Linked DNA regions of Homo sapiens. The protein of the gene in region 1 purifies or fractionates together with the protein of each later gene. This does not show direct contact. Each region holds a gene or a part of one and is shown in the gene's direction. Other genes may lie near its edges. The genes, in order: NCALD, MAP3K21, TPP2, ANKRD33B and SH3GL2.

The links.
Region 2: the proteins of NCALD (region 1) and MAP3K21 purify together in Homo sapiens (affinity purification with mass spectrometry; one large-scale study listed by BioGRID and IntAct). This does not show direct contact.
Region 3: the proteins of NCALD (region 1) and TPP2 purify together in Homo sapiens (co-immunoprecipitation; 2 studies listed by BioGRID and IntAct, with this or other methods). This does not show direct contact.
Region 4: the proteins of NCALD (region 1) and ANKRD33B purify together in Homo sapiens (affinity purification with mass spectrometry; one large-scale study listed by BioGRID and IntAct). This does not show direct contact.
Region 5: the proteins of NCALD (region 1) and SH3GL2 purify together in Homo sapiens (affinity purification with mass spectrometry; one large-scale study listed by BioGRID and IntAct). This does not show direct contact.

What each region holds. Positions count from the first base shown.
Region 1 is NC_000008.11:101,783,252-101,789,285, reverse strand, and holds part of NCALD (neurocalcin-delta), read left to right. Parts: intron 1-256; exon of another isoform or gene 257-507; intron 508-3,233; exon of another isoform or gene 3,234-3,431; intron 3,432-6,034. UniProt on the Homo sapiens protein: May be involved in the calcium-dependent regulation of rhodopsin phosphorylation. Binds three calcium ions.
Region 2 is NC_000001.11:233,329,612-233,335,645, forward strand, and holds part of MAP3K21 (mitogen-activated protein kinase kinase kinase 21), read left to right. Parts: intron 1-6,034. UniProt on the Homo sapiens protein: Negative regulator of TLR4 signaling. Does not activate JNK1/MAPK8 pathway, p38/MAPK14, nor ERK2/MAPK1 pathways.
Region 3 is NC_000013.11:102,643,766-102,649,799, forward strand, and holds part of TPP2 (tripeptidyl-peptidase 2), read left to right. Parts: intron 1-791; coding exon 792-908; intron 909-1,143; coding exon 1,144-1,244; intron 1,245-2,528; coding exon 2,529-2,625; intron 2,626-3,441; coding exon 3,442-3,579; intron 3,580-5,141; coding exon 5,142-5,386; intron 5,387-5,642; coding exon 5,643-5,721; intron 5,722-6,034. UniProt on the Homo sapiens protein: Cytosolic tripeptidyl-peptidase that releases N-terminal tripeptides from polypeptides and is a component of the proteolytic cascade acting downstream of the 26S proteasome in the ubiquitin-proteasome pathway.
Region 4 is NC_000005.10:10,638,810-10,644,843, forward strand, and holds part of ANKRD33B (ankyrin repeat domain-containing protein 33B), read left to right. Parts: intron 1-6,034.
Region 5 is NC_000009.12:17,581,134-17,587,167, forward strand, and holds part of SH3GL2 (endophilin-A1), read left to right. Parts: intron 1-6,034. UniProt on the Homo sapiens protein: Implicated in synaptic vesicle endocytosis. May recruit other proteins to membranes with high curvature. Required for BDNF-dependent dendrite outgrowth.

The sequences.
Region 1 (6,034 bases):
GAGGCCATATTCTTAACACCCCTAGAAAAATGATAATTTATATGTAACATTTCAGTTGAGCACAGATAAGACCAGTAGCACCGTCATTTAACAGCACTATCTTTGATGAGGTACACTTTGACATTTACTTCTTTTACTCAAAATGTGGAATTATCATTATAGTTTTTCCAGGTAGCAGAGATTTTCTTGGTGCTGTCTCTATGACATTTTAAATTAAAGTCTTATAATAATTGTATTCAATGCTCTTTCAAAATAGACTATATTTCAGCGGTATGAAATACAAGAGAATAATTCAGCGTTGATGGCAAAATCTCAATGATGAAGTTTATCACTAAAAGAAAACAACCTATGCTGTGAAAGCAGAGATGCTCTAGAATCTACAGGTCTTTTCCTATGGGAAAATAAGAGAAAAAAAGACTGTCATCAGAATCATTTTACAGCATTGAGACTATGTTGATTTCAAGGTCATGTTTGTTGCAGCTTCAAAAGATGCTGGCAAGGAACGAGGTACTCTAGAAACCTGGCTGTTGCATTATTAAATATTTTGTGTATAGTTTCGGACATTCTTAACCCGTTTGGTGCTGTGGACCTCTTTGGCAGCCTGGTGAAGCCTATGTACTTTTCTCAGAATTATGTTTTTACATGCATAAAATAAAGTATGCAGGTTTACAAATCAAACCACTTTCATTCATTGAAAAACGTTAACTAAATTTTACAAAATTGTGATACATGCTTTGTTAGTAACACATTATTACATAATACAAACTAACAGCAGTTATAATAACTACCATAACTACCATAATTTTGAAGTAATGGTGAGCATAAAAGATATTTCAGGATATCTACAACAACTGTAAAATGAGGTGAAAATATCTGTGATTTCTCTTGGCAACAATATCACAGGTGCTGTGGCTTGTGGCCTACATTTTAATTGAAGGAAATACTAAATTTCAGTTTGAGGTTAGTGAAACTAAAGATATAATATTTTTCCCAACCAAGTTCCCCAGGCCCTCTTGAATTTTATCCACCCCTGAGTCAATTGATATGTACGTTAGTGATGCCAAAAGGTGATAGAACTGCACTGGACAAAACCCATCACCCCATTTCCACATTCGGTTCCACCGCATCGGATTTTATTCTTCGAGTGTGTGAATTTTGCAATGTTCTCTAAATTCTGCATGAAAAGGAATAATATGTTCACATAGCTACCAAATTGTAACTTTCTTTTATTTTCCTCCTTGAGATCCATTAACAACAGTCTTATGTCCCCTGGATTGGGAAACCCTTACCTGGTTAGACAGGGGTTAAGAGGAAAACTCATAGTGTTAGTACAAGTTATGCGAGTTAAAACCATGGGCCACAGAAGGTAGTTCATGTGCTCATAGCATTTGAAGCAAGCATTAAAGAATGCATGTGGCTTTCCAGCTTAATGTAAAGCACATACACGTGTGAATTGATCAATTGTCATGTTAATTCCAGATACTCAAGAGAGAGCCCTAAAGGTTTATCTGACAGAGGTCTCTAGGATGAGGCATGTTTGAAATTAAGCTGGAAGTGGAGACACTTCCCAAGTATCTGAATGCAGAACCTTATTTGGCTTATTGGATATTTAAGACCAATACAGGGGGTATTAATAGTATTGTTTAGTGTGACTTATGTAAGTAGTTGTCTCATTCAACATGTTTCTTTAAATGTGCAGAAAATAGTGCCTGATATTCCTCTCCAAACCAACAGCGTAACTTTGCAGTTGGTCAGCTGCCGTCACAGCCCTATATTCAGAATGTCCAAAGTCATCCTTTCTATGACATCAACACCCACTGTCTCCGCGTAAGAGAATGGGAGCTATGACATTTTGCACAAGCTGTTGTTTAAATTCAATCCAAATCCCTCGCATTTGAAATGGAAGCTTAGCAATTTGTCTTCGTGTGTTCTCAAAGGAATTACGAAAGAGATGTTCTCAAACGTTTCTTATTCTTTGGATTAGAAAAGAACACTTGCCTTGGGAGCTTTGAGTCTCTAGCAACTTGATAAAGAAACTTGGAAAAAGTTTAAAATCTCTGACTCCAGGCTGTACTGTTTGCTTCTCAAGCCAGGTGTTTGAAACTTTTCAAAAAGGAATGTGCCATTATTTTTCATAAAATCCACATTTATTTAACTGGTGCTTCATGATGGAAATCTAACTAGAAATAGCATTCCAAAATGTAGTATTTTTTATTGTTTTCAGAAGTGATACCATAAAAGTTAATGTTCACTAAGATTTTGATATAAAAATTATATGATAAATATTGAAATTCACTGGAGCCAAACTAAAAACAGTCTGCCCTTTTTATCTCAGTAGTGAACTTTAGGGGGTTTTTTGCATGTATTTTCATAAGTGCCTTTAAATAAAGACACGGCATCCCTTTAAAATTTAGTTTACATTAATGTAAACCAGAATATTCTCAGGTCACAATGCAGTTTTATATTTGATTTGTAGGAAATAAATCTCTAGCCTGAAAGACATTCCAGCTGTTGCCTGTCTTCATGGGAGGATTGTTCACATTTTCTGAATCTCTCCCAGTGACTGCAGGAAGACCAAAGGCTGCACATTGCTTTTATGCAAGGATGAATTTTTTTAAAAGATGATTTTGGATTTTGTTTGCTTTAATGAATTTAAGCCCTATCTATTAGAGGTAAATGTCAAGAAAACTGTTGTGTTCTTTGGCTATCTGCTCTGCTGACTCCCACAGACTTTGATATGATTCATATAACTCAAACCATGATCAGGTTTGTGACGACCATATTTACAATATCGTTGGAGATCAAAAATAGCATCTCACAAAAGTTTCCCCGTCCTATACCTTCCCACATCTTATCATGGATCATGTGCAGCACAGTCACTCAATTGGCGAACATTTATTAACGGACTACTGCATTCACAGTATTATAGTAGGCATGTGAGGTCCTCCCCTGATGGGATCCTCAAGTGAGATATGCTGCTGGCATAGAGAACCCAAGGGCCTTTATGGACCCTGGCTTTTGTTTGCTTGAGCTTTTATTCAAACATTCAGTCTTTCATGCATTCAGCAAATTTTGAGCACATACTACGTGTCAGGCATTGAGCCAGACCCCAGGGTTGCTATAAGGTACAAGACAGGGCAGGTCCCTTCCATCATGGAATATGCAGTCTAACTATGTAGAGAACTTGCCCAGAGACCTATATGTACTATTAACTGGGGTTCTCTTTCCCACAGCCACACTGGCCACTGCAGTCCAAAAGAGAATTCTAAAAGGAAACAGTACAAAACAGAACATCAAAACAAAACAGACAAACAACCTGGGAACCATTAGGTTTTACACCAGAGTGAAACCCCAGAAGAGACATTCTGCAGCTGGTGAACAGCCGGCCTCATTTGTGAGCAATCTGTTCCCATCAGTGTCAGGGATTCCAGGTCGGTATGCTCAGTCCTATTCCCAGTTGGCCAGAGGCTATTTGTCCTCTAGTTCAGAAGACAAATGAGACTGGTAGGGACCGACCTAGAGAGTATTTTCTTTTATGCAAATACCCTGTTTCATACAAATAATGAAAACCATTGTATTTTATGAAAGGAGTCTTTAAATTAGTGATATTTCCAAAAATATCTCTCCCGTCTTCCCTGTACTAACCCAGTCAGGACAGGGTCACTGCTGTAATAAATAGCCCCCAATCTTAATGGCATAATCCAACACTGTTCATTTTTCACTCACCCAGAAATCAGGATTGGGCGAAGGGCTCTGCTCCACACAGTCCTCCAGGGACTCAGGCTCCTTCTATCTAGTTAAACTGATCAGGGGCCTGTTTCTACCACTTGCTAGTGATACTCTGAGCAAGTTACCTAAATCAGAGTTTTCTTATGTGAATAATATTAGGGCATCCCTCTTGGATTTTTGAGTCAATTTACTTGGCATAGAAACTGACAGGTATTAGGTACTCAATAATGTGAACTGCTGTTATTAATCTTCTACTTCTGGTAGTGCTGCCACCACCATCCCCCGAGGAGGCAGGAAGAATCCGTCAGAATTGGAAGAGTATTATAATAATAGCTAACACTTAGGAAGCTGGATAGTCTTCAAAGTTCTTTTCAAAGTAACTATTTTTTAACAACATTCTAGTTTTATAAATGAGGAAATTGAGGCACAGAGAGCTTAAACAAATTGCTGAGTGTCACACAAGTATACAATAGAGCTCTAGGCATTTGGCTTCAGAGTCCTGGCTCTTTATTCACTATACTATATTGCCTTTCAACTTGGAATATACAGCAGAGCCTCAAATACCGTCATTTCATTCAACATCGTTTTGTTGTAATGTTAATGAGAAAAAATAATTGGTTTTGTTGTCAATGATGTTGTGAGGACTTACTATTATATATTGTATTTTCCCCAGAATTAATGTTATATGTTGTGGCAGATTGTATTCAAAAATAGCCTTACAATTGAATCCATTACCACATTAAAAAAATTTTTTTTTAGAGATGGGTTCTCACTCTGTTGCCCAGGCTGAAGTGCAGTGGTGTAATCATAGCTCACTGTAACCTCAAACCTGGGCTCAAGCAATCATCCCACCTCAGCTGCTTGAGTAGCCAGGACTATAGGCGTATGCCACCATGCCCAGCTAAATTTTTGTTTTTATTTTTATAGACTTGGGGTCTCACTATGTTGCCCAGGCTGGTCTTGAACTCCTGTCCTCAAGAGATCCTCCCACCTTGGCTTCCCAAAGGGCTGAGATTACAGGCATGAGCCACTGCATTACCATATGTTCTTCTAGAATCTTGCTCCTCTCCATCAGGAGGTGAAGTCTATTGCCCCTCCCTTTGAACCTAAATGGGCTTATGATTGGTCCAACTGATAGAGTACAGTGGAAATAATGCTAGGTGACTTCCAAGGATAGATCATAAAAAGAATACAATTTTTTTCTCTCTTGCTATTCTTTTTCTTCTTGACATTTTCCCTTAGAATCCAGTCACCATATTGTAGGAAACCCAGACCACATAGAGAGGCCAAGAGTAGGTATTTCAGCCAACATCTCTTGCTAAAGTCTCAGCCGACATCCAGCATCAACTGGCAGGCATGTGAGTGAGCAAGCTGTCAGATGACTCCAGGCCCGGTCATCAGGTCTTCCTTCCCCCTCCTGATGCCAGGGAATCACAGATGCACTATCCCTGCTGAGCTCTGCCCCAGGTTGCAGTTTCATGGACAAAATAAAAGTTGTTACTGTTTTAAGCCCGTAAGATTTGGGGTGTGGGGGGGTAATTTCTTAGGCAATCAGAGTAACTGGGACATTTGGGTAATTAGAAATGAGTGAAATGCCTGTGTAGAGGGCTAAACTTCAGGTACATATGGATTATTAAATAGACTTTTGTGATTTGGCCTAACCTAACCTAATTTCTGGAGGAAAATATATTTCTGTTACCAACCAAATTACAAATGAGCTTTTGGAAATTTGGAACAATGTCCTACAGGTTAATGCTGTTGCTGGTTCTAGGAAAAGATTTGGGCTACACTGAGGCCAGACTGCATGCCTTAGCAAGATCTCGCTCATTGGCCCCCACTGACTGGGACCCTCCCTGCAGGAGAGTGCAGTGTGGATGGCAGTACTCGTATCATCTGTCCTAGACCATCATAGGACATGCTCAGTCCTCCTTGTCCACTTTGTCTCCCTCTCCCATACCTACTCTGTCTAAATTGCTGCCTACTTTTCTATTGTTAGAAACTGCTGTATCTTTGACACTATTTTGGCCCATTTCCTATGCTTCTAGGGCAATGTTTTCTGCTCTACTGGTTTGTAGTAAAGCTAGGGTATTCTCCTTAGCCAGGTAAAATTTAGCTAATTCAACAAAATCTTATGCCTCTTAACAAAATTGCCAAAATGGCAGCTGTCCCATTGGTCTGTGGCTCCATGTGTTGGTCAAATCTAGCATTTGAAATCCTCAGAAATGTGGTCCTTGTGTCCTTACTCAAAGAGGCATCCCTTTCCCTTCTGCTGTAGAGAAATCAATGCCCCAACTCTCTTCTCACT
Region 2 (6,034 bases), on another chromosome or scaffold:
CCACTGCACTCCAGCCTAGGAGATAGAGTGAGACTCTGTCTCAAAAAAAAAAAAAGTGTCTCTACGTGAAATATGATTTTATTATTGGTTCAATGGCTTCTTTTCTCCAGACAAGAGGCACTGGTGTGCACCGTAATGCACTTTTGGGTTAATAACAAGTGCATTGTCCTTGCACAGGTACTTGAAACCTTGAAGACCTGGCCAGTGTCATTGACTTTGTTTATAAATCAGGGTGGATTTTCCAGATGTCAATAAAGAACTGACAAATGACTTAAATGCAAATCCTATGAAACTTTGCTGTATAAAAGAGCCTATAGAATTGCTGTTTGATGTTGGTTCTTTAATATTGAAGATCGCTTCATATTCTTATAATGAGATGAAATCCCAGGGAAGGTTAAAGGATGCAGCCAGCCCTGGCATTGGCCTACAACAGCTGGAGGTCTTTCAATCCTGTGAAACCTGCTAGGACAGGAGCTAGCTCAAGTGAAAACATTGTCCCTAAAGAAGAGTGACAAGAAGAAATTTACTTGAAAATTACTAATGTAGCATTTTCACTGGGAATTGTAAATAATTGGAATGTTGTAGCTAAGCATAAGCATTAGGTTTTATTTCATGATCCTCCTTCCCCCCAAGTCTCTCTATAATTTAGATTGCATCTGCTTAGGTGATGAGAGCAAAGTCTAACAAAATATGTTGTTACTGGTAGCGGTGTATTCTTAGTACTTTGACAGACCACATGAAGGACTATAGCATTGCTTGCTTTTGAACTGTGTTACAGTAAAAACAGAGCGCAATTTCCTAAAATATACTTTTCTTTCGATAATATATATATATTTTTTTCAATAAAAGAAACGTCTGACCAGGTGCTGCCATAGAATGGGTGACTTGTCCATGTGTTCCATAAGCCCTATTTCCAATGGTGTCCTGAAAGCCTGCGTCTGTTAGGAGTTTTCTGCAGAACCAGGTATTTTAAGGACATCAACAGCACCATTCATTCTTTCCCCTGCCTCTTGGCAGTTGCAGCAACTCTGTGACAACACAGAACCCAACATTCTGCAAATGTATCCAAATCATCAACACAAGCAAACACTTGGGTTGTACTGGTCCTTAGGCTAAAAAGTTAAAGGGCCTATAGCTATTACTTTTACACTGCACTTAGTTTTGTTTGGTTGCAATACTTTTCAAAGTTCATACAACACAGGGTAGAGAATGTTTGCTAGTGTTTTTAAAGCATGTTTTAAAGGATGTTTATCCATTCCTATGGGTTAATCCATAGGATTTATGGATCAATCAACAATCCATAGCAATTATTGCAAATAGTAAATTTTTATAAAGTTTTATAAAGTTTTATAAACTTTTATAAAATATAAATGTTTAAAGAACTCCTAATATTATTAAATGGTAAAAAGAAATAACATGACCCTGGAATAATAACTATGGCCGAACAGTTTTTACTGACACCAGAAAAACTTGTATAGTGGAGTATAGACTACTGTGTATTCAGTAGATATTACATAATTTGATGGTGATTACATGCTGCTACTTAGTTTTTGAAAGACTTTTCAGTCTCAGAATAAATTGCCAAACTTCCCGGAGTATTTTAATTTCTATAATTGTCAGGCAGGATTCCCTTTGCTTTAAATTGTTGCACTCTTATAAAAGACTTAATTAGCTAGTCACTAGCCTGGCCAAGTATTTGTTACAATATGACCATTATCATAGTTATTTAATTACTATAAAGTGAAGAGTTTGACTGGGGTCTAGAATGTGCAAACCATGGTGCCTCATACATGGTCTTTATCCTGAATGTCTGATTTTATTTGTTCAATGAATAAATGCAGATTTGAAATTCTCTGCTGATATATGAAGCTATGACTTCTTGTTTAGACTTTTAAGTATAACAGATACTCTATTGCAGTATGTTTTGTTTGATTTTATTGGATATTTGCTAATGGTGGTAGTGAGTTAGTGATAACGTAAACAAGGTTTTAAAAATCAATATTGAATTTTATTTTCACTCCGAAGTGTACTCATGTACCAAAGAGCTAATAGAAGACTACTTGGAGCCAATTCAGTGGAAATTACTGTTTTAAACAAATATTTAAATTTGTCTAGAGAATATGTTACTCTTGACAGATTTTCTTTTATCTTTTCTAGTAGATCTTCTCAAGTTTTATCATATCTTGTGAGGGAATGTCTGTGTCTAGATAATAGCTGATATGTTGTGAATGATATAAACAACTTTGTCCCTTTTCTAACAGGTAGCAACAGGTTGAAAGTTGTGCCAAGTTAGCAAGCTTTAAGCAACATTTATGTTTTAAATAAATACTAGGCCCTGTAACTCCCTTCTGGATGCAAAATAAGTAGAAAATACTTTATATAAGTCTACCTATAGGCACCCCCCAGAGAACAATACAAGGCAACTTTGAGTTACTGTGAAAATCGCCAGTGTTATGCGCATTTACAGAAGAGAGAAACATTGTGGAGAGCTGGAACTCATTCAACACTGTTGGAATGCCCACCCTGTGCCAGTCACTTCTGGGCCTCAGGGACACTGGCAAGCCAGACATCAATGACAACAAATCTGCCATCATAGAGCTTAGTCTAACGGGGAAGATAGATGGCAGTCACGTAATAACAAATAGATTAGAAAATGCCATCAAGAAAATTAAGCATGGTAAGGGGTGGAGAGTGGTAGAGTGGAGGATGGGGGTGCTGTTTCACACAGGGGCTCTCCAGGGAAGGCACTCCGAGGAAGGACCACGAATTCGTCAAGCAAAGACCCAGGCAAAGGAAAGAGGAAGCAAAAATGAGCCTTCCATATTGGAGGCCTAAGGAGAAGGCTGGTGAGGAGAGGCATGCGTGGGGCAGGCCTGGCAGGCCTCCCTCTGCTGTGCACATGGAGGTTTCACTTGGAGTGATGGTGCTGGCTTCTGTGAAGAACGGACTGCAGTGGGCTCAAGTGATGGCTTTCAAGGTTGTCTATATGAGAGGAGGCACCGACTCTGCCCAGAGTGGTAGCAATGGAAGTATTTTGCAGGGAGGTTACCAGGGGGCAGTGAAGATAAAATACTGCAATATAAGAATTCCCAAGGATGGTTTGAAATATTAGAATTTTGTTTAAGAGTTTTATTTATCAAATTGCAGAAGTGCAAGATTGAAGTAAGATTATGTGGCATCATGTATGGTTTCCTTTTTCTTTTTTGATGTTGCTTATTGTGTTCTATTTTTTTTTTCTTAAGAGGAAATAAACTTTCCATGGGGAACTGAGCCACAAATTATGGTAGCTACTTACTTTTATACTTTTTATGTCAGTGATTAAGCATTTATTATCTCAATTTTTTTAGTCTTTTAGGAATAATTATTATCTATCTACAGTATTATTTACAACTACAATAGTTGTATTTATTATGAAATGCCATTTGGAGCTCTTACTATGACAAACTGCAAAAGGAATATAAATTTTGTTTTAGCTTTTTTTCATTAGTACTGTGTAAATAAAAGAACTATCTGAGAAAATTATGGAAAATGTAATCTCCAGATAAGATGTTTAAATAGCTCATCAGAGTGATTTGGGGAAGCTACTAATTTCACTATTATCAGTTGTAAGACATAAGTTCCTTCTCTCTTCTGTTCTTATACTCAGGACATGTAGCTTCATGCTATAGCTGCTTCCTATTCCAGGAGGCACAGAGAAGTCAGTCCAGATGTCCCAATGGTAACTGAGATCTACATCTGCTTTTGAAACAAAGTTAGTGAAAGATTAGACTTTTAGAAGAATGGCAATCACAAAAGAGTCACCACATCTTCCCCCATCATTTTCATGTTTGCGTATTAAAAAGTAAGTAGCTGGCCAGGTGTAGTGGCTCATACCTATCTATCATCCTGGCACTTTGGGAGGCCAAGGTGGGAGGATCGCTTGAGCCCAGGAGTTTGAGACCAGCTTGGGGAACATGGTGAGACCCTGGACTACAAATATTAAAATTAAAAAAAAAAATAGGCAATGTCTTATTTTTTTGTAGTTGTGAGGGGTATAGCTAGTTAGTTCTGAATTATGCAAAGTATCCGTATTTGATCAGTTTTGTAATCATTATCAAGTATATCAAAGCAGGGTAAAGGAGACAGAGGAAAGTATTTATCTGCTCTACCCATTTAAGAAGGTCATTTGTAAGCCCTGCTTTTTCACACTAGCATTTAAGTGCTAAACCTACCAGAATAGTGCAGCTAAGGGAAACAGCATTGGCTTTTTTGTGTGTGTTTTTGTTTTTTTGAGACGGAGTCTCGCTCTGTCCCCAGGCTGGAGTGCAGTGGCACGATCTTGGCTCACTGCAAGCTCCGTCTCCCGGGTTCACGCCATTCTCCTGCCTCAGCCTCCCGAGTAGCTGGGACTACAGGCGCCCGCCACCACGCCCAGCTAATTTTTTTTTGTATTTTTAGTAGAGATGGGGTTTCACCGTGTTAGCCAGGATGGTCTTGATCTCCTGACCTCGTGATCCGTCCGCCTCGGCCGCCCAAAGTACTGGGATTACAGGTGTGAGCCACCGTGCCTGGACTTTTTTTTTTTTTTTTTTTTTAATACAAGGTCTTGCTGTGTAGCCCAGGCTGGTCTCAAACTCCTGGAGTCAAGCCATCATCTTTCCTCCTCAGCCTCCCAAAGTGCTGGGATTACATGTAAGAGACACCACCTCTGGCTCTATCTAGCATTGCCTTTAAAGTCAGTCAGATCTGGATTTGAATATCAGTGTCCTCATTTACTAGCTGTGTGACCTTGAGCAAGTTATATAACTTCATTGAGACTGATTGTCTTGATTTCTGATACTGTATTCGTTTCTTGGGAGATCTGTCAGAAGTCCTGTAGGGAAAATCTGTTTAATGTTTCTTAACCCATTAAAGCCAATTAGGTAAATACTGGCATAAAAACATATGGCTTTTTCAGGGAACAATGAGTAGTTAGGTGTAACTAGAATGAAAAGTGGAGAAAGGGTTTTTTTGGGGGGGAAGGAAACAGGCATTTCGCATGTGGTCAGGCAGTGAGTGCCATGGATGCCATACTAAGATGTGTGGACTATTTAAGAGGCAAGGGAGAGCCATTGATGGTTATTGAGGAGTAGTGTAGTATGATCTGCTGCAAGAAAACACATCTACAGAGAGAGAAACATAAGCTTGCGGTCATTGCTTTATGACTGTACTATCATAGATTGTCAGAATGGCAATAATAAAAACTAAAATAACTTACTTAGACATTGGTTTGACCACATTGTTTATCATTTACAATTCAAGCCTAGTTTTTAGCATCACAATTTGTTTACTGAATTAATTTAGACTACATTTTCTCTCTGATTTCTTTCTTTCTTTTTTTTTTTTATTATACTTTAAGTTCTAGGGTACATGTGCACAATGTGCAGGTTTGTTACATTTCTAACTACTTCCAAAATTGGAAAATATTCTCTAGCTTTACCGTGTCAGGCTGATGATCTTAACTCCAAATGTTAATGACTGTCCCCAAACTCTCTGAGGCTCCCCAAACCCTCTGAGGCAATCCAGGGCTCCCGAAAAATAGAAGCACCCCAATGAAGGAATTTTAATGGGCAGAGGGTTTTGTGGGGGACCTGGGAGAGCTGTGATGGCTTTATTTTGGAGCCTGAAACTTAAATTTGTACAGTTGACCCCTTGGCAGTGTGAATTTAGTTTTTAAAATTCATCTTCTCCAAATATTGCTTCACGTTGAGTGCTTTTAACTAAATAATAGTATTAATAATTGCAAAACCACGATTACTTGTACACCAACCTAATAGTAACAAGATGAGTTTTTAACATTTATTTAGGGCATATTAGATGCCGAGCACTACTCACAATTTATCCTCATTTATTTGTCACTACAACCTTTTGAGGTGGCGCTCTAATTATCCCCAATTTACAGGTAAAAAAAAAACTGAACTCAATGATTAACTGACTTGATCAAAGTCATTCAACCCATCAGAGGGGAGTGCTAAGAATTAAATCTGGGACCTCTGATCCTGGAACTTGTGTTTTA
Region 3 (6,034 bases), on another chromosome or scaffold:
GAAAACTGCTACTGCTTCATGTCTAAGTTATCTCAGATGATGGCAGACTGCATTCTTATCTGTGGTGTTGGAAATGATGACTAGTCTTTCTTCCATAGAAGGTGAAAGTACTGATGTTCTTCCTTCAATGCGCTCCTTTGTGTTTTCAGTTGGTTCTGGGATTTTCCCAGTATCTCTTGGTTTCTGGTTACTTTCATTTGTGTTCTTCCATGGATCAGTGTTGCTTCATCTTTTTAAACTTTTAAATCACTGATTACTAGAAAACTTACTTTAAAACTCAGTGCTAAGAGCAGGTGTTTTTTTTTCCTTTTCCTTATCTTTATTTTTTAATAGGGAGAAAGATGTAAATGACCATAATGTCATTTTGTTTTGGTTGCCAGGTAGCTGTGAGCCCAAACTCAATTGTGCCTATTGAGTATGCCTTACAAAGTTGAAGTATCTTTATTGTGTCGTTATACTTGATTATTTTTCTTTTGGTCCTAATTTTTTATTTCACTTCGAAATAATAAAATCACATTTGCTTTATTATATGTGCTTTCAGAAGCTGCCTAGGATCTTTTATGACAAGAAGCATAGGGTTATGAGTAAATAACTATGTATATTTAAATACACCATATCTCTGCAAATGATTTGTCTAACTCTTACTTAGCATAGCTGTTAAAATTTTTGAGTTTTCTTGCTACAAACAGGAAAAGTTTGAAAACAGAATTGCTCTGAAACAGCTAGTATTTATATTCTGTAATTTGAGAAAAATAAGAAAAGAGATATATTTTATTTACTTTTATTTGCAGGGTGGAAAAGCAATTGAATTTTGCATTGCTCGTTGGTGGGCAAGTCTCAGTGATGTCAACATTGATTATACCATTTCTTTCCATGGGATAGTGTGTACTGCTCCTCAGTTAAACATTGTAAGTTCCACAACATTTTCATGATTTTTAATGTCAGTTACTTGTGTTACTGGAGAGTAACTTCATTGGTTAGATTTAAACTTTAATGAGGGGAAATTACCTGTGGTTCTGAAGATAGCAGTAGGCTTTGTGTGTGGGTACTTATAAACTTTATATTGGACACATTTATTTTAGGTACAAAATATTGCTTATTTTTAGTAAAGTTTGAGAAAGTAATTTGAGAAATCCTTTGTAGCATGCATCGGAAGGAATCAACCGCTTTGATGTTCAGTCCTCCTTGAAATACGAAGATCTGGCTCCCTGCATAACTTTGAAGAACTGGGTCCAAACACTGCGGTATCATTCAATGTTTTAGGAACTACAGATATTGAATATAGATTGGGGGGATCTCTTACACTCTTAAAAAAGGGCCTTTTTTTTTTTTAATCCACCTGCATGCTAGAGGTGAGAATTTTATCCTTGCCAGCAGATCTCTGCAAGGCAGCCCCAGTATCAGCTTCTAGCTTCACTGTCCCACCTGACCAGCAAAGTCAAGGATGGTGGATAGCCGATCCCAGTCATGACTAGTTAGGATCAGTGGACATTAACCTTTTTATTTCTTGCTGTAAAATAGCAAGTTAACATTCTCTCTGATATTATTTTGTGAATCCTAATGCAGTCATTTTTAGAAACTGCAATACCATTAGAAACTGTTTATTAAATGGTAGAAACTTAAGTACTGTAGCCTGCTGTTTGTGCCTCAGCAGCTCCCCTTACAAAAGCAGGGCACCTTGACCTGTGTTCACATACTCACTGTGTTATAAAGATACCTGGTTTCTTTTGTTTAATCTGACCTTAACTCATCGGCATGAAGCCTAGTCTTAAGTGTATTAAAATAACCAATTAGGGACAATAGTCAGTGACACGGTGATGTCTAAAGATATACTGCTTCCTAGAATTATCAATAAAAATTAAAACATCCAGCTTTTGAAGATATATCCAACTTATATCATCCTGATGTTTTCTTCCTAAATCTAAAAAATTGGAGCTAAATTTAGAGTAGATTATGTTTCACTGACATTTTAAACTATATTTAAAACTTACTCTTCAGTGTCAGTTTTCTCCTTTATAAAATCTGTACATTAGCAACTTCCTTCAGAGGACTACTAAAAATATGAAATAACATTCCCTCGGCCAGGAGGAGGGCTGAGTGTGGCCCCTGCCATCTGGTGAGCAGCAGGGGTCTGGGGAGGTCTGTGCTGCACACAACACAGTACTGTCAACAGTTTGCACAAGGGGTACAAATCAGAACCTGTCTTGCAACACTTTTAGTTGTCACCCTAGTGTTAGGATTTGGTTGTATTGAGAGCTGTTTGTTCACATTTGAAAATGTTTTTGCCATGAAAAGATTGCCTTTGTCATATTTATTGCAAAATCTAAACTGTATGTATTGATATGATTCAATCAAATAATTATGTAAGTTAGTGATTAAAATATTGTAGAGTATACTGAAAAGGATAGCTCTCAGGAAGGTTCATCTGCACTTTTTGCAATATGTTACAGATTTTGTTGCATATGGTTTTATTTGTCTCATTCAATGAACTCTTGAATCAAACCAGTTATGTAGTTTCCTCATTACAGCCCAGTGAGTGCAAAAACAAAACCTTTAGGATCAAGAGATGTTTTGCCAAATAACCGTCAACTTTATGAGATGGTCCTGACATATAACTTTCATCAAGTAAGTGTTTGCCTAGTAAAGTGTACCCTTAGGATGAACTTTTGTGTTTTATTTATGATTCATAGAATCAAAAATGGAAGGACAGTGTATATGGTATATATAAAAAACAGAATCAAGTGATTAACAGTTAATTTGGAATTACTCTTTAGGAAATTATAATTTGTAATTAAATACCATTCAGTTGTAAAGTCACAAAATGTAATTGAGTGGTGACCTAGCCTTAAGCCTTAGTTTATAAAATCACTGATCACTGTCCATTGGTGCCATCTGACCCAGGGGTGATTAGATGGCTCAGAAATACCATCTGCCTTCTGGTGATGGTGCTGGGCCTGATTGCTTTCTGCGAAGAAGGCACTGGAACAGGGAAAGGTCAGAGTAGCTCCCAGGTGGGATGGGTGGCAAAAGTAATGGAGGCCAGTGTAAATGCTGGACCAAAGAATTGTTGTAAGATCAATGAGATTTCAATAAAACTGTTACTGAAACACACATCAGTTTGGTTATAATGTTAGGGAAATGGATTGGTTTCAGTGAATTTTCACATTTCAGTTTTATAAAGTAATTAGAGGTCCTGAAGTATGTATATGTTGCTTTATTAATGAATACACATAGCCAGGTGTGTATTTTTAAAAGTTTGTAAGAGAGCAGTGACTTTTATAAGTGCTAAAATACTGTGTGTTCTATATTTTCAAAATTTTTTACCACAAGTATTTTTAATGTTTTTTAAATGAAAAAGTCTCATGTCAATAACAATATTAAAAATTTGTATCAGAAATTATATGCAAATCATGCCAAGTAATCTTTTTTGTTTTTTAATAGCCCAAGAGTGGGGAAGTAACTCCAAGCTGCCCACTACTTTGTGAACTATTATATGAATCTGAATTTGACAGCCAACTGTGGATTATTTTTGACCAGAACAAAAGACAGATGGGTTCAGGCGATGCCTATCCACATCAGGTATAAAATTGATGGTGATTTTTAGAATTAACGGAAGCTGTTTCCTGAACTAACAAAATCCTGGTTTCTTGTTATGGTAATGTTCATACTTTAAAAAAAACAAAAATTATAGCTTTGTGTTTAGTACTTTTGCAAACTGTGAGAGCCTGTTTGTTGTAGTCGGTGAAGAACAGATGGTGTCAACTATTTCACCATGTAGTTGTGCTGAATTAGAGGAGGACAAGGGTGAACCTTGCCCACACTGGCCAGCATAACTTTTGGTGTGTGGTGTTTCTCCTTCCTATACACTGATTCTACCTATCTGAAGGTAGAATCATCAAAGCATGCATCAAAGAGATGCGAGCCTCTTGAAATGATCCTAAGTCTGAGGGGGCTAAAGAGAGCACTGCAGCAGTGGCCGCATGTCTTCAGTTCATTTGTACTTTTAAATTTACTACCTCGTTGGACAACTCTGTAATGAGCACTTACTACATACCAGGCACTATGCTTTGTGCTGTTTTATTGAAGGGAAAAATCACATAATTTATAGACATTTTATCCCTTAGATATTACTGCAAAGAAATGAGATATTTCCTGTAATATGTATAATTTTATGTTGACAAATGAAAATAATTTATGGAGATTTTTTTCAATTAGTTGTTAAAGGAATGGTATCGATTTTCCTCAAAGCAAGTAGCAGTCACATCTCATTACAGACTGGCCTACTGCAGTGCTATTATTTTGGTTACTTTTTAAATCTCAGAAAAAGTGGCTGACACAGGATACAGCATCTCTTCCTCTTGAACCTGTTAAGTGGATAATAGATTTGTATCCCTTGATCTCTATTGGTTTCCTGTTTTTTTCCTGTCTGTAATAAAGGAGTGACATTTTGGTTGTAATTTGAAGATCAGCTGGGCATGGTGGCACATGCCTGTGATCCCGTCTACTCAGGAAGCTGAGGTGGGAGGATCGCTTGAGCCCTGGAGCTCTAGGCTATGGTGCACTATGATTGCACCAGTTAACAGCCACTGCACTTCAGCCTGGGCAACATAGTGAGTCCCCCTCTCTAAAAGGAAATAAGGATTACCAGTAGTCATAAGTTACACGTGTGTGTGTGTGTGTGTGTGTGTGTGTGTGTGTGTGTATTTGTCCTAGATATTCTATGGTGCCTCAATTTTGCTCATTTTTTTGGTAGTGTTTCTTATATGTCTCTGAGGGACCCATGAACTAGAAAATCACTGCTTTTGTCATTCTCAAGCAGACACTGAGTTTTGCTAAAAGTGTGGGAGTATTCTGTCGTTCTGGAAAGAATGAGGGCTTTGAAGTCAGACCTGACTTCAGCTCTCTTATACTTTACTCTGTGTGATGTTAGGCAAGTCACTTGATGTCCCTGATCCTGTCTGCTCACCAGCGTACTAGGGACTTTATGTGTTATATGAACGTCTGGATAGTTAGTTCCTTGCACTGTACCTCACATATTATGAACAAGTCTGTGAATGGTAACTTTCACTTTATCCTCTTTCAGTGATTTCCGTTGACTTGGTTAAACTTAACTTTTCCCAAATGTTGTTTTTCTTTTTCAGTATTCTTTGAAACTGGAGAAAGGAGATTATACAATTCGACTACAGATTCGCCATGAGCAAATCAGTGATTTGGAACGCCTTAAAGACCTTCCATTTATTGTTTCTCATAGATTGTCTAATACCTTGAGCTTAGATATTCATGAAAATCATAGTTTTGCACTTCTAGGGAAGAAGAAATCAAGCAATTTGACATTACCACCCAAATATAACCAGCCATTCTTTGTTACTTCCTTACCTGATGATAAGTAAGTGATAACATTGCTTATACTTACTGCCCATCGTATACACTGTAGTCCTTTTAATGTCAGTTTATGACATCTAGGCTAAATTTAGAGGATGTAGTCATTTTTTTTTTGGCTGAAGTATTTCTTCCTTTGATTTTTGAAGTCTTAGCTATGGGAATGAATTCAGTGTGGAATTGTTTTCATGTTTTTCCCCTTACTTGTCTTTGTGAAACTTTCTCTTTTGTTGCTTTTTTTCTCTTTGAATTCTCTTGTTTAGAATACCTAAAGGGGCAGGACCTGGATGCTATCTTGCAGGATCCTTAACATTGTCAAAGACTGAACTAGGAAAGAAAGCTGTAAGTATTAGTTTTTTAAACACTGAAATTACCTATTAAAAAATTTCATTTCTTTAAAGATAAGAATTAATTCCACATTTCAGAATGGATAAAAGAGAAGATATACTCTTGGGGAAAAAAATTTAATCCTTTTTTCCCAGGTTACTAGTGAAAGTCAGTTAATATTTAGTTGTCTTTTAAAATGTATGCTACTTTTGAAATATTTAGGCTTCTTTTTCACAAGCCTACAGTACTCAGGCCCTGAACCTGTCTTACCTCCTACGGCTAATACACTTGAACTTCCTGTGAAACATGTAAATACAAATCAAACTTG
Region 4 (6,034 bases), on another chromosome or scaffold:
GGGTAATGTTAGGAGGTGATCCGGAGTTACATGGTAACATTAAGAGGCAATGTGGAGTTGCATGGTAATGTTAGCGGGTGACGTGGAGTTGTGTGGTAATGTTAGCGGGTGACGCGGAGTTGCGCGGCGATATTAGCGGGTGACGCGGAGTTGCACGGCGATGTTAGCGGGTGACGCGGAGTTGCGCGGCGATGTTAGGCGGTGACGCGGAGTTGCGCGGCGATGTTAGCGGGTGACGCGGAGTTGCGCGGCGATGTTAGCGGGTGACGCGGAGTTGCGCGGCGATGTTAGGCGGTGACGCGGAGTTGCGCGGCGATGTTAGCGGGTGACGCGGAGTTGCGCGGCGATGTTAGCGGGTGACGCGGCGTTGCGCGGCGATGTTAGGCGGTGACGTGGAGTTGCGCGGCGATGTTAGCGGGTGACGTGGGGTTGCGCGGCGATGTTAGGCGGTGACGTGGAGTTGCGCGGCGATGTTAGCGGGTGACGCGGAGTTGCGCGGCGATGTTAGCGGGTGACGTGGGGTTGCGCGGCGATGTTAGGCGGTGACGCGGAGTTGCGCGGCGATGTTAGCGGGTGACGCGGAGTTGCGCGGCGATGTTAGCGGGTGACGCGGGGTTGCGCGGCGATGTTAGGCGGTGACGCGGAGTTGCGCGGCGATGTTAGCGGGTGACGCGGAGTTGCGCGGCGATGTTAGCGGGTGACGCGGCGTTGCGCGGCGATGTTAGGCGGTGACGTGGAGTTGCGCGGCGATGTTAGGCGGTGACGTGGAGTTGCGCGGCGATGTTAGCGGGTGACGCGGAGTTGCGCGGCGATGTTAGCGGGTGACGCGGAGTTGCGCGGCGATGTTAGCGGGTGACGTGGGGTTGCGCGGCGATGTTAGGCGGTGACGCGGAGTTGCGCGGCGATGTTAGCGGGTGACGCGGAGTTGCGCGGCGATGTTAGCGGGTGACGTGGGGTTGCGCGGCGATGTTAGGCGGTGACGCGGAGTTGCGCGGCGATGTTAGCGGGTGACGCGGAGTTGCGCGGCGATGTTAGCGGGTGACGCGGCGTTGCGCGGCGATGTTAGGCGGTGACGTGGAGTTGTGCGGCGATGTTAGCGGGTGACGTGGGGTTGCGCGGCGATGTTAGGCGGTGACGTGGAGTTGCGCGGTGATGTTAGCGGGTGACGCGGAGTTGCGCGGCGATGTTAGCGGGTGACGTGGAGTTGCGCGGCGATGTTAGCGGGTGACGTGGAGTTGCACGGTGATGTTAGGCGGTGACGTGGAGTTGCGTGGTAATGTTAGCGGGTGACGTGGAGTTGCGCGGTGATGTTAGCGGGTGACGTGGAGTTGTGTGGTGATGTTAGCGGGTGATGTGGAGTTGCGTGGTAATGTTAGGAGGCAACGTGGTATTGCATGGTGATGTGTGTGGCAATTTCCGTTTTCTATGCTGTGTCATAGAGTGGAAAATTCTCAGGCTATCAACCTGGATCAACCCCTCTTTGTCTTTTGCGCCATCTTGGAGAACGCACTTTCCTGTTCCCATCTGTGAAATGGGAGTAATGACCTCTTTCTCCCTCACCTCCCTGAGGCTAAAATGCAACAATACTTTATACACTCCTAGAGGCTATCCAGCTTCAATGAGCTACTAAGCTAAATGCCACACAACTAATAGCTTTAACTCTTTTCTTCACTCTGAAATAGAATCAATGATCATCCTTCGTGCAACCTCATCGGGTTATTTTGAGAATTAAATGAGAAAATATGTGTCAAGCACATGTCGTGTTAGATTCAGTTAGCAGCTGACATCTCAGTGAATGTGCGATGCTGCTTTCACCATTACTTAATTCTGTTATTTTAATTTCTCTTTATTTTTGTTCTTGGCACTGGGTTCAGCCAGTCCTGCTTGGCGCTGCAAGTTCCTGAAGAAGTGGATTTCCTCTCTGTCTTAGTTGTTCTGCTGCTATAACAAAATACCTCACCTGTGTAATTTGTAACTGTAGAAATTTATTGCTCACACTTGGGGAGGCTGAGAAGTCCAAGATCAAGGTGCCGGCAGGTTCGATGTCTGCTGATGCCCCTTCCTTCTTACTGTCTCCTCTCATGGCAGAGGGGACACCGAGGTACCCTCAAACCCTCTTTCATAAGGCACTAGTTTGATTCAGGAGGGCACAGCCCTCATGATCTAATCACCCCCTAAAGGCCTCACCTCTTAATACTATTCCAGTGGGTCTGAAGTTCCAGCATAGGAATTTTGGAGGGTCGTCAACATTCAGACCACAGCACCACCCCTGTCTTGGTTATCCTGAGGGTGGCATCAGAGTTTTCCCAGGCATCAGTGCTTCCATTAATGTCACTTTTCTGTTCCAGGACCCCTGCTGGGCTCCCACATTTAGTTGTCTTCTTCTTAGTTGTCCCCAGTCTTCTTCTTCTTCTTCTTTTTTTTTTTTTTTTTTTTTTTGAGACAGTCTCACTCTGTCGCCCAGGCTGGAGTGCGGTGGTGCAATCTCGGCTCACTGCAACCTCCACCTCCCGGGTTCAAGCGATTCTCCTGCCTCAGCCTCCCGAGTAGCTGGGATTACAGGCACCTGCCACCACGCACAGCTAATTTTTGTATTTTTAGTAGAGACGGTGTTTCACCATGTTGGCCAGGTTGGTCTTGAACTCCTGACATCCCGTGATCTGCCCGCCTTAGCCTCCCAAAGTTCTGGGATTATAGGTGTGAGCCACCGCGCCCTGCCCCTCATCTTCTTGGGTCTGTGAAGTTTCTGTCATAACCTGTTGCCCATGACGGGACAGTCTTGATTCCAACCAGTGTGCAGCACCGCCCAGTCTGAGCCCGTCTGTTGTTTTTCTCGAGATCAATCTGGAGTTACAGGATTCACAATTGCTTCAGATTTATCTTTCTTTTTGCTTTAACCTTAGGGGATTCTTTAGTCTTAGGAGATGCTATAATAAAAATAAGTTCAGTGAATGAGAATAGAGGCTTCAAAGATGAAAACTTTCTTGGAAATAAAAAAAAAAACATAATTAAAAACGAGTCCTATCGATTGTACTTTTGATTCAGAGATGATAGTTTTATTTTAAAAAAACGAGATATCAGTTTCAACAGAGTTTCGGCCCTGCCTGCCCTCATCAATGAGAAATGGTTCCTACTAATTAAATGGTAATTATGTGATGCTTTTGTGTTTGGCGGGAGCTTCAGACACTTTTACTATTTCTGGATCTAGTTATAATTGGGCGTAGATGTTTGGTAATTGACTTTTTCAACTGAACATTTATGATGTCAGTCACATCACTGCACTTTCCCATTGAATTAATTTGAACTGCAAACCTTTTTTAGGTCAGTTGCCCTCTAATCGCTCCGTTTGACTGCCGTGCTTTCTTCCCTGGGTCTCCTGGGGGTTTCAGGCATGTGTGACAGCATTTAGAGGATTCCAGAAACACCTTGCACATCTCTTGGAACGATGAGTCTGCGGGCAGTGGGTTTACTGCTGACATTGCTCTTCCCCCATCAGTTATTTGGATACAAATTTGACATTAGATTTGAGACTCTCCCTCCCCTATTCTCCACTTTGCAAGCCCATCCCCCATCACAGTCTAGAACAATCCACGGATTATTGTCTGTGGGATCCTCTAGTGAGTCTCTCCCTGTCCTATACGAGGTACAGAGCAGGAGCTGAACAGAAACAGTCCAGGAACCAGGACCCAGTTTCAAATTCATCTTCTCCACTTCCCATCTCTACACCTGCAGCCTGTCACTCACCTCTCTGGGCCCCAGTTTCCTCTTCTATAAAATGAGGCTAATGATAGCACCCACCGCAGGAAGGTGGGATGCGGATTGGGCACGTTCACAACAGAACAGCCCTCGGGTGCATGCTGGGCTTGGAGAAGCCTTCGGACATGTTGGTTGTGATTATTGTTATTATTATGATTATTGGTGAGTTTATGTGTTCAATAGTTATCTGTTAAGTGAATGAAAAAATACGGTTTGTTTTTCCCTTTGAGAAATATCTTGTAAATGAGATACTTAAACTTTCTTAATGAGGGTAGTAAGCCCCTACCTCAGGGTTTTTGTTTTTTGCTTTTTTGTTCTGTTTTTGTTTGTTTGTTTTGCTTTGTTTTGTTTTGTTTTGAGACGGAGTCTCACTCTGTCGCCCAGAGTGGAGTGCAGTGGCGCGATCTCGGTTCACTGCAATCTCTGCCTCCTGGGTTCAAGCAATTCTCTTGCTTCAGCCTCCTGAGTAGCTAGGACTACAGGCATGCACCACCACATCCAGCTAATGTTTGTATTTTTAGGAGAGACAGGGTTTCTCCATATTGGCCAGGCTGGTCTCAAACTCCTGACCTTGTGATCTGCATGCCTCGTCCTCCCAAAGTGCTGGGATTACAGGTGTGAGCCACCGCACCTGGCCAGGGGTTTCTTAATTTCAGCACTACTAACATGCAGAGCCAGATAATTCTTTGTTGTGGGGGCTGTCTTTCAAATTGTAGGATTTTTAGTGGCATCCCTGGCCTCTACCCACAAGATGACTGTAGCACCTCTTCAGTTGTGACAACCAAAAATGTCTCTAGATGTTGCTCAAAGTCTCCCAGGTTGGGGGAAAAATTGCTTCCCATCGAGAACCACTGATATAAATAATTTAAATGGGAAAGGATATACAAAGTGAGAAGAGACATTTTCCCCTCTGTGTACTCTTCCTCGCTTGTTCTGTATTCCTCCCTCAAATAAAAGTGTGACATCTTGGCCGGGCATGGTGGCCCACGTCTGTAATCTCAGCACTGTGGGAGGCTGAGGCGGGTGGATCACCTGAGGACAGGAGTTCGAGACCAGCCTGGCCAACATGGTGAAATCCCGCCTCTACTGAAAATACAAAAAAAATTTAGCCGGGCATGGTAGCACAAGCCTGTAATCCCAGCCACTCGGGAGGCTGAGGCAAGAGAATCGCTTGAACCTAGGAGGCGGAGGTTGCAGTGAGCCGATATCATGCCACTGTATTCCAGCCTAGGCAACAGAGTGAGACTCTGTCTCAAAAAAAAAAAAAAAAAAAAAAGAGAAGTGACATCTTGTTTAGGGAACTTTTGAGCTGCCCTCTTAAGCTTTGGTTGTAGTGTAGAACTTACGGAATATTTTCATCTTCTACTATTACTACTAAGCTTACAGTTCTCCCAAGAAAAGTGGGTTTTATTTTCCTTTGACAGTAGATGGGTAAGAATTAAAAAAAAAAAAAAAAGTGTTGAATTGCTTCCCCAGGATTAGTGGAGAGCAATAAGGACAGATGTTGATATATTTCTAAAATTCACACAAATATTTTAAGTCTTATTCTTTCCATTTAAATACGTGATATTAAGAAAAAAATAAACCATTTAAAGAAACTAATAGCCAGAGCCTTTCTTTTAGATTGACACTTCAGATTGTAATAAAAAGTATAACCGGGTTCTGAGAGGCTGATCGATTGCATCTTTGGTTTGGCTTCGTAAGGAGTAATGCAGGCTCTGCTGAAGAGCATCACAAGGGAGTTGCAGAACCTTGTTAATTCACTGAAATATTAATGCCCACAGTGACAGGTCTATTTAAATAGGTGGCTCTGAGAAGCGTATCGAGGATGTGATTTTTTTCTGAAGAGAGGCAGAATCTGTGGAGGTTGCCAGGTTCCAGGCTTGCTTAAGGGAGCTCACTTTCAGACCTGAAGTGTGGTGTAACTGCCGCAGCCTTCAGGAAGCAAAAACAAGCAGCAATAACCTCAAATCTTCCTGTGATTCCAAGGCGCAAAGTGGATTTAAAGGACGGCGAGGAACAGAGATCAGAGATGCTCCCGCTGTGGGTCAGAGGGTTGCTCTTGTCTCAGGGAAGCCCTGATATCTCTTTCTGGAAAGTCAGATGATTTCCAACCATATAGAGGTTTCTTTCTGTTTATAAGGAAAACTTAAATTTCCTATGAAGTGTGAATTTGCCATGTAGAATTGTTTGAAGTCATTAGCCAGAGAAAGGATGAAAAGTCAAGCATTCTGTGTCACCTGCAAAGCAAACCTCGAGACAAGGACTTGGGGGCAAG
Region 5 (6,034 bases), on another chromosome or scaffold:
AATACTATCCCTTATGCTGTGAAGAAGTTACCCAAGCTAGACCTTTTAGTTTTTCCAACTTAAAAAATAGAGCGCTCCATTTCCGCTAAATCTTGAAGTTCTGTGTCGCCCTAAAGTGTAGAAAAAATAATTTAAACTGCGTTAGGAAAGAACTTAAAAGGTTGGAGAAGGTCGGCATGTGATGCGATACGGTTAATGTTTATCACACCGAATCCAAATGCAGAATCACTGCGTCATTGTCTTCCTTTTACTGAAAAGCCTTTTATTTGAAAGGTGAAGCAGCACGTAGTCTCTTATCCATAATTTAGTGTAGCACACTCTTAGAAAGTCTAAGGCACAGGTGACTGTTCTGTGCATATGTATATTTAGGAGAGTATGTAAAGCCCATGTTAATGTTTGCATGTGACAAAAAAATTAGAGAAATAGTCCTGTCCTACTTTTGTAGCCATTTTTTTCCATCAGGTCCGTGAACCTGATGTTATCTACAGAGAAGCTTTAGACCTAGAATTACTTCCTTTTGAGAACTGATGTGCTGGATAATATAGCCTGGGTTTGTTTGTTTGTTTATTTATTTATTCATTTGAGACAAAGTTTGACTCTTGTCGCCCAGGCAGGAGTGCAATGGCGTGATCTCAGCATACTGCAACCTCTGCCTCCTGTGTTCAGGCGATTCTCCTGCCTCAGCCTCCTGAGTAGCTGGGATTATAGGCATGCACTACCACGCTCAGCTAATTTTTGTATTTTTAGTAGAGACAGGGTTTAGCCATGTTAACCAGGCTGGTCTCGAACTCCTGACCTCAGGTGATCTGCCCGCCTCGATTACAGGCTGAGCCCCCGCACCTGGCCTATAGCCTGGGTTTATAAGTGGAAGGAGTCTGTTCACGCAAACGTTTCTTTCTATGGAATTGAGCTTTTTTGCTTGTGTTAGTAAGCGATGATAAATAAAACAGTATATTGTTTGTACTTGGAATTTCTGATTAAATGTGTCACAACTGTTGTCTTATATTAGAATTGGTTATTTCTACCTTGTTGCTGACAGTTATTTTCAATATGTTTACAATTTGGAGGTAAAAAAATGCTTTTGCCAAGTAAAATTTATTAGAGAAGAAAATCCTTTCAGCATGAAAATATATAATGATACCAAAAATTGATTGATCATCTTATTTTCATGTACTTCATTACTTAATTGCTCATAAAGATATAATTTACTGTATAATTAGAATAAAGTATTCTTTTTTTACTGTAATAAAGGGCAGATGATCTTGTGTTGCTCTTTTAGTGAGTTTTATTCATATTGAGATTTCATTTTACAAAAGTCATGTCAGTTTTTTTACACTTGTTTTAAACTGGCAGCAGCTTAGTTAAAAATAGCTGTTTCCAGTGAACATGAAGCTCCTACAAAATCTGTATTTTTAAAAATTCACTCTATCATGCATATGATGTGGACACATTTTGCTTTACAATATGTAAAAGTCTATTATAAAGTAAAATATATTAGGTCATTTTATGAGTTTGCTGGAGCTGCTGTAACAAAGTACTACAAACTGAGTCGTTTCAACGACAGAAATACATTGTTTCCCACTTCTTGAGACAAGCACACTTGAAGTCTGAGACCAAGGTGCCAGTAGGGCCACGAGCTCTCTGAAGGTATGAGACAGGATCTATTCGAGGCTGCCTTCTTAGCTCTTGTGCTTTGTTGGGAATCTTTGGGCTTCCTTGGCTTGTAGATACATCACCTTGGTCTCTGCCTTCATGCTCACATGACATTCTCCCTGTGTGTGTCTCAGTGTCCAAATTTCCCCATTTTGTAAGGACCCCAGTCATATAGGATTGGGCAAGCCCATCCTACTCCAGTATGATTTTATCTTAAATAATTACCATCTGTAATGCCCCTATTTCCAAATAAAGTTGCATTCTGAGCTATTGTAATTAGGACTTTAATATGAATTTTGGGAGGGGCACAGTTCAATCCATAACAGTCGTTATTTGCATAAAAGGATTAACCACAGTATTCTATATTTGATTCAACATCTAAGAGGACAGTTCAGCCTATAAATAACATATAACTTTCTATTGCATCAAAAAGATATACTTTCTCCTTTTTTAATGAGTTGGTTAGTATATTGCTAAGTTCTGAATGTGTCCCTCTAAAATACGTATGTTGAAGCTTGACTGCCAATGTGACAGTATTAAGAAATGGGGCCTTTAGGAGGTGACTAAGTCATGAGGGCACTCATGATTAAGTCATGAATGGGATTAGTGCTCTCTTAAAAGAAGTTGAAGGGGTCACCCTGTCCCCTTCCACCGTGTGAGGGTTTAGCAACAAGGCACCATCTTTGAAGCAAAGGGTGGGCCCTAGCCAGGCACAAATCTGTTAGTGCCTTCATCTTGGACTGCTAGCCTCCCAAACTGTGAGAAATAAATTCTATTATTTATAAATTACCCCGTCTAAGATATTTTGTTAGTAGCCTGAACAGACTAAGTCAGAAATATACCTATTATAAATTGTGTTTTCTGATTTTTTTAAATGATAAAATTAATTTGGGTAGGCTGGGTTTTATGATACAGTCTGGTATATGTTTATTTGTCACACTCAGATTCCTTAACTGGGAAAATTTCATCATGTTTGTGTTCTGTGTCTTTTTGTTTTACCTAATTTCCTCTTTCAGAATGCTGTATTTTATATGGATGCTTTGCTCAGGAGACCATTACATAAGTCTTTTCATGCATTTGTTGATTTGGTGAGATGTTAAACTTACTAAGTATTGGATTAAATATCTAATTAGTTATGACTTTATCTCAGTGAGATTTTCAGTTTCTTAATTGCCTCTAAGCAGTCAACTCTCTGCTGCCTTTAAAATCTTGGCTGTGGCTTGTTGCTTGACCCAGGATTTCTACACCTGTACCCTTTCACATTCTTAGCCAGTAGTCTCTAATAGGCTGCAAGGGGCCTATATATTTTATAAAATTATAAGTAACATTTTATACATGCATTTTTCTGAGGGAGAATGCCCTTAGCCTGTTACCAGATTCTTAAATAAATTCCTAATTGCTGCCCCTTCCTCCCCTCGAAAAGTAAAAATAGGGTGGGGCGTGGTGGCTCACTCCTGTAATCCCAACACTTTGGGAGGCCAAGGCGGGCGGATCACTTGAGGTCAGGAGTTCAAAACCGGCTTTGCCAGTGCAGTGAAACCTCGTCTCTACTAAAAATACAAAAAGATTAGCTGGGCGAGGTGGCAGGTGCCTGTAATCCCACCTACCCAGGAGGCTGAGGCAGGAGAATTGCCTGAACCCAGGAGGCCGAGGTTGCAGTGAGTCAAGATGGTGCCACTGCACTCCAGCCTGGGCAACAGAGTGAGATTCTGTTTCAAATAAATAAATAAATAAATTCATCATGTCATCAGGAGAAAGTGGATGTTTCTTACAATAATCACTCCAACAGTTCTGTTACTGGGCTTTAGGATGCCTGATCAAAATGCAGCCTTCTCTGCATTAATTTAGCAGCAATCAAATGTAAAAAACCTTTCCAGAGGTGTCAGGATTGAATGAGGTAATGCTTGTGAGAGTGCCATGCTTGCATAATAAGGATCACTTGAACCATGTAAAACAAAATGTTGTTAATGCGCTTGAAGTCAACGATACGGGCCTGTGGGGTATATGAAAAGAAAGTGGTGACTGAAAATGATTTCTCTGTAGACTGAGAGTCCTCGTGATTGAAGTTTGTGTTGTTGAAACAGCTATATTTTTGCAAGCTTTTTTCCCCATAGTGATTCTTTAATATTTTAAATTGAGTTTATATGAATTTTGGTTTCAGTCTACTTAGAAAATTTTAAAGTAACCTGCAAATTAATTAGAAGTACCCTAGAAAATGGCAAGACTTGGTTGGGGCAAATGGTGACTGTTTTGAGACAGATGTCATTGTGGAAGGGAGAGGTTTAATATTCAGGGGAAGGGAGCTGAAGCTTGCAGAGCAGATTCCATTCTGCCAAGCCTCTTGTGCTGCATACAGAGTCTCAGGGCATCAAGCAACCCGAGGGCTTTCTTCAGAGGAGTAGCTTGAGGCAGCGGCGAGAGAAGGGCAGGACACACTGACAAATGAATAATGAGAATTAGGTGAGGAGATGGAGTTTAAGAACTGCTTCAAACTTTAAGGTGGATACCTGATGGGGCTTTCTAGAGATGAGCAATTCTTCTCAATTTAAGGCCAGATAGGGGAGATGCTAAGTAGGTAAGAAGTCAGTGGATTTTTTGGCCTCCTTTTTTCTCTTTTTGTTCTTTTAATCCTTCGTACCCTTGTCCTGTGTTCTTTTAGGTAATGTTCAGTGAGGTGTAGCCACAAGAGGGGACATAGGAGAGGCTCAAGAAAACAGAGTTTATTATACTCACATGTCTTAGAATGACAATCACTGTACAGGAGGATAGGAGGGGGGACACGTGGGGTGGAGGTGACAGCTCTGAGAGCAGGATCAGCTAAGCAGGTGGGAAACAGGTGGGAGCAGAGAGAGCAAGGACTGTGGGCAAGTGCCTTTACTAGTGATCTCAGTGCAGTTCACAGCTCAGTGCAGTTCACAGTGCGTTGCATTGGTGCATTGGTAGGTCGTGGTCAGAAGAAGACAGAGAGGTGAACTTGTGGTAGGGGCCAACCTTATCAAACTTGTGCACCTGGTTACCTGGGTGGGGTGTTCACAGTTAGCGTATGTGGGAATGAATGTTGAGGCAGCAAGAGGCAGCAGGAGACAACATGTGAAGTTTTGAAACTTTGTAGTACAACCCTTCTCAGTGTTTTTGGTTTAGAATTTATTGTTTCCATAATCACTTAAGGAGCCTAAAAGCTTAAGAATGATGTACATGGTATCCGATGGATAATAAAGACTAAAGAGAGCTATAACTATACTTATTAAAATGCCATGATTGTGAGACCCTGCCAAGTCTTTTGCATTCTACCAACAAAATATTTTCATGCTATACTAAATCATTAGCTGATGACAAATGCTTCAGGAAATAATTTCACTATTTATAAAGGTTTTACATTTAGTACAACTTCTAAATGCCAAATATGATGTTGTAGTTGCTCTACCCTAATCTCCCTCCGCCATCCCCTGGGTCAAATTGTATATAGTAGTAATGAATATGGAGAAGCTGTCTGTAATACTCGTGAAGAACCCACAGCTCCATGGAGGTTTACTTGGATACTTAGGACACTGAAGGACCTCTAGGCAGTGTTTTCTGCCTTTTTTTGAATTATGATATATATAAAAAATAGAAATATCTTTTTTATAATTCAAACTAACCTTTCCCCATAGATACTAATGGAAGCAGTTTTATAATGCTGAGAAACATCTCAATATCAAGCTATGTATTAGTCTGTTCTCATGTTGCTAATAAAGGCATACCCGAGACTGGGTAATTTATAAAGGAAAGAGGTGTAATTGACTCACAGTTCTGCATGGCTAGGGAGGGCTCAGGAAACTTACAGTCATGGCAGAAGGGGGATCAAAAATGTCCTTCACATGACGGCAGCAAGGAGAAGTACAGAGCAAAGTGGGGTAAAAGCCCCTTATAAAACCGTCAGCTCTCGTGAGAATTCACTCACTATCACGAGAACAGTGTGGCGGTAACCACCCCTATGATTCAATTACCTCCCACCAGGTCCCTCCCATGACACATGGGGATTGTGGGAACTACAGTTTAAGATGAGATTTGGGTGGGGACACAGCCAAACCGTATCACAGAATAATGCTTGAAAGAAACATAAAGCAGATAGCCTATGCTTTTAAACGTACAGGAAATCGGCTGGGTGCGGTGGCTCATGCCTGCAATCCCAGCACTTTGGGAGGTCGAGGCAGGCAGATCACTTGAGGAGTTTGAGACCAGCTTGGCCAACATGGCAAAACCTCGTCTCTACTAAAAATGGGAAAATTAGCCAGGCTTGGTGATGCACAGCTGTATTTCTGGCTACTCAGGAGGCTGAGGCAGGAGAATTGCTTGCACCTGGGAGGCGGAGGCTACAGTGAGCCAAGATCACACCGTTGCA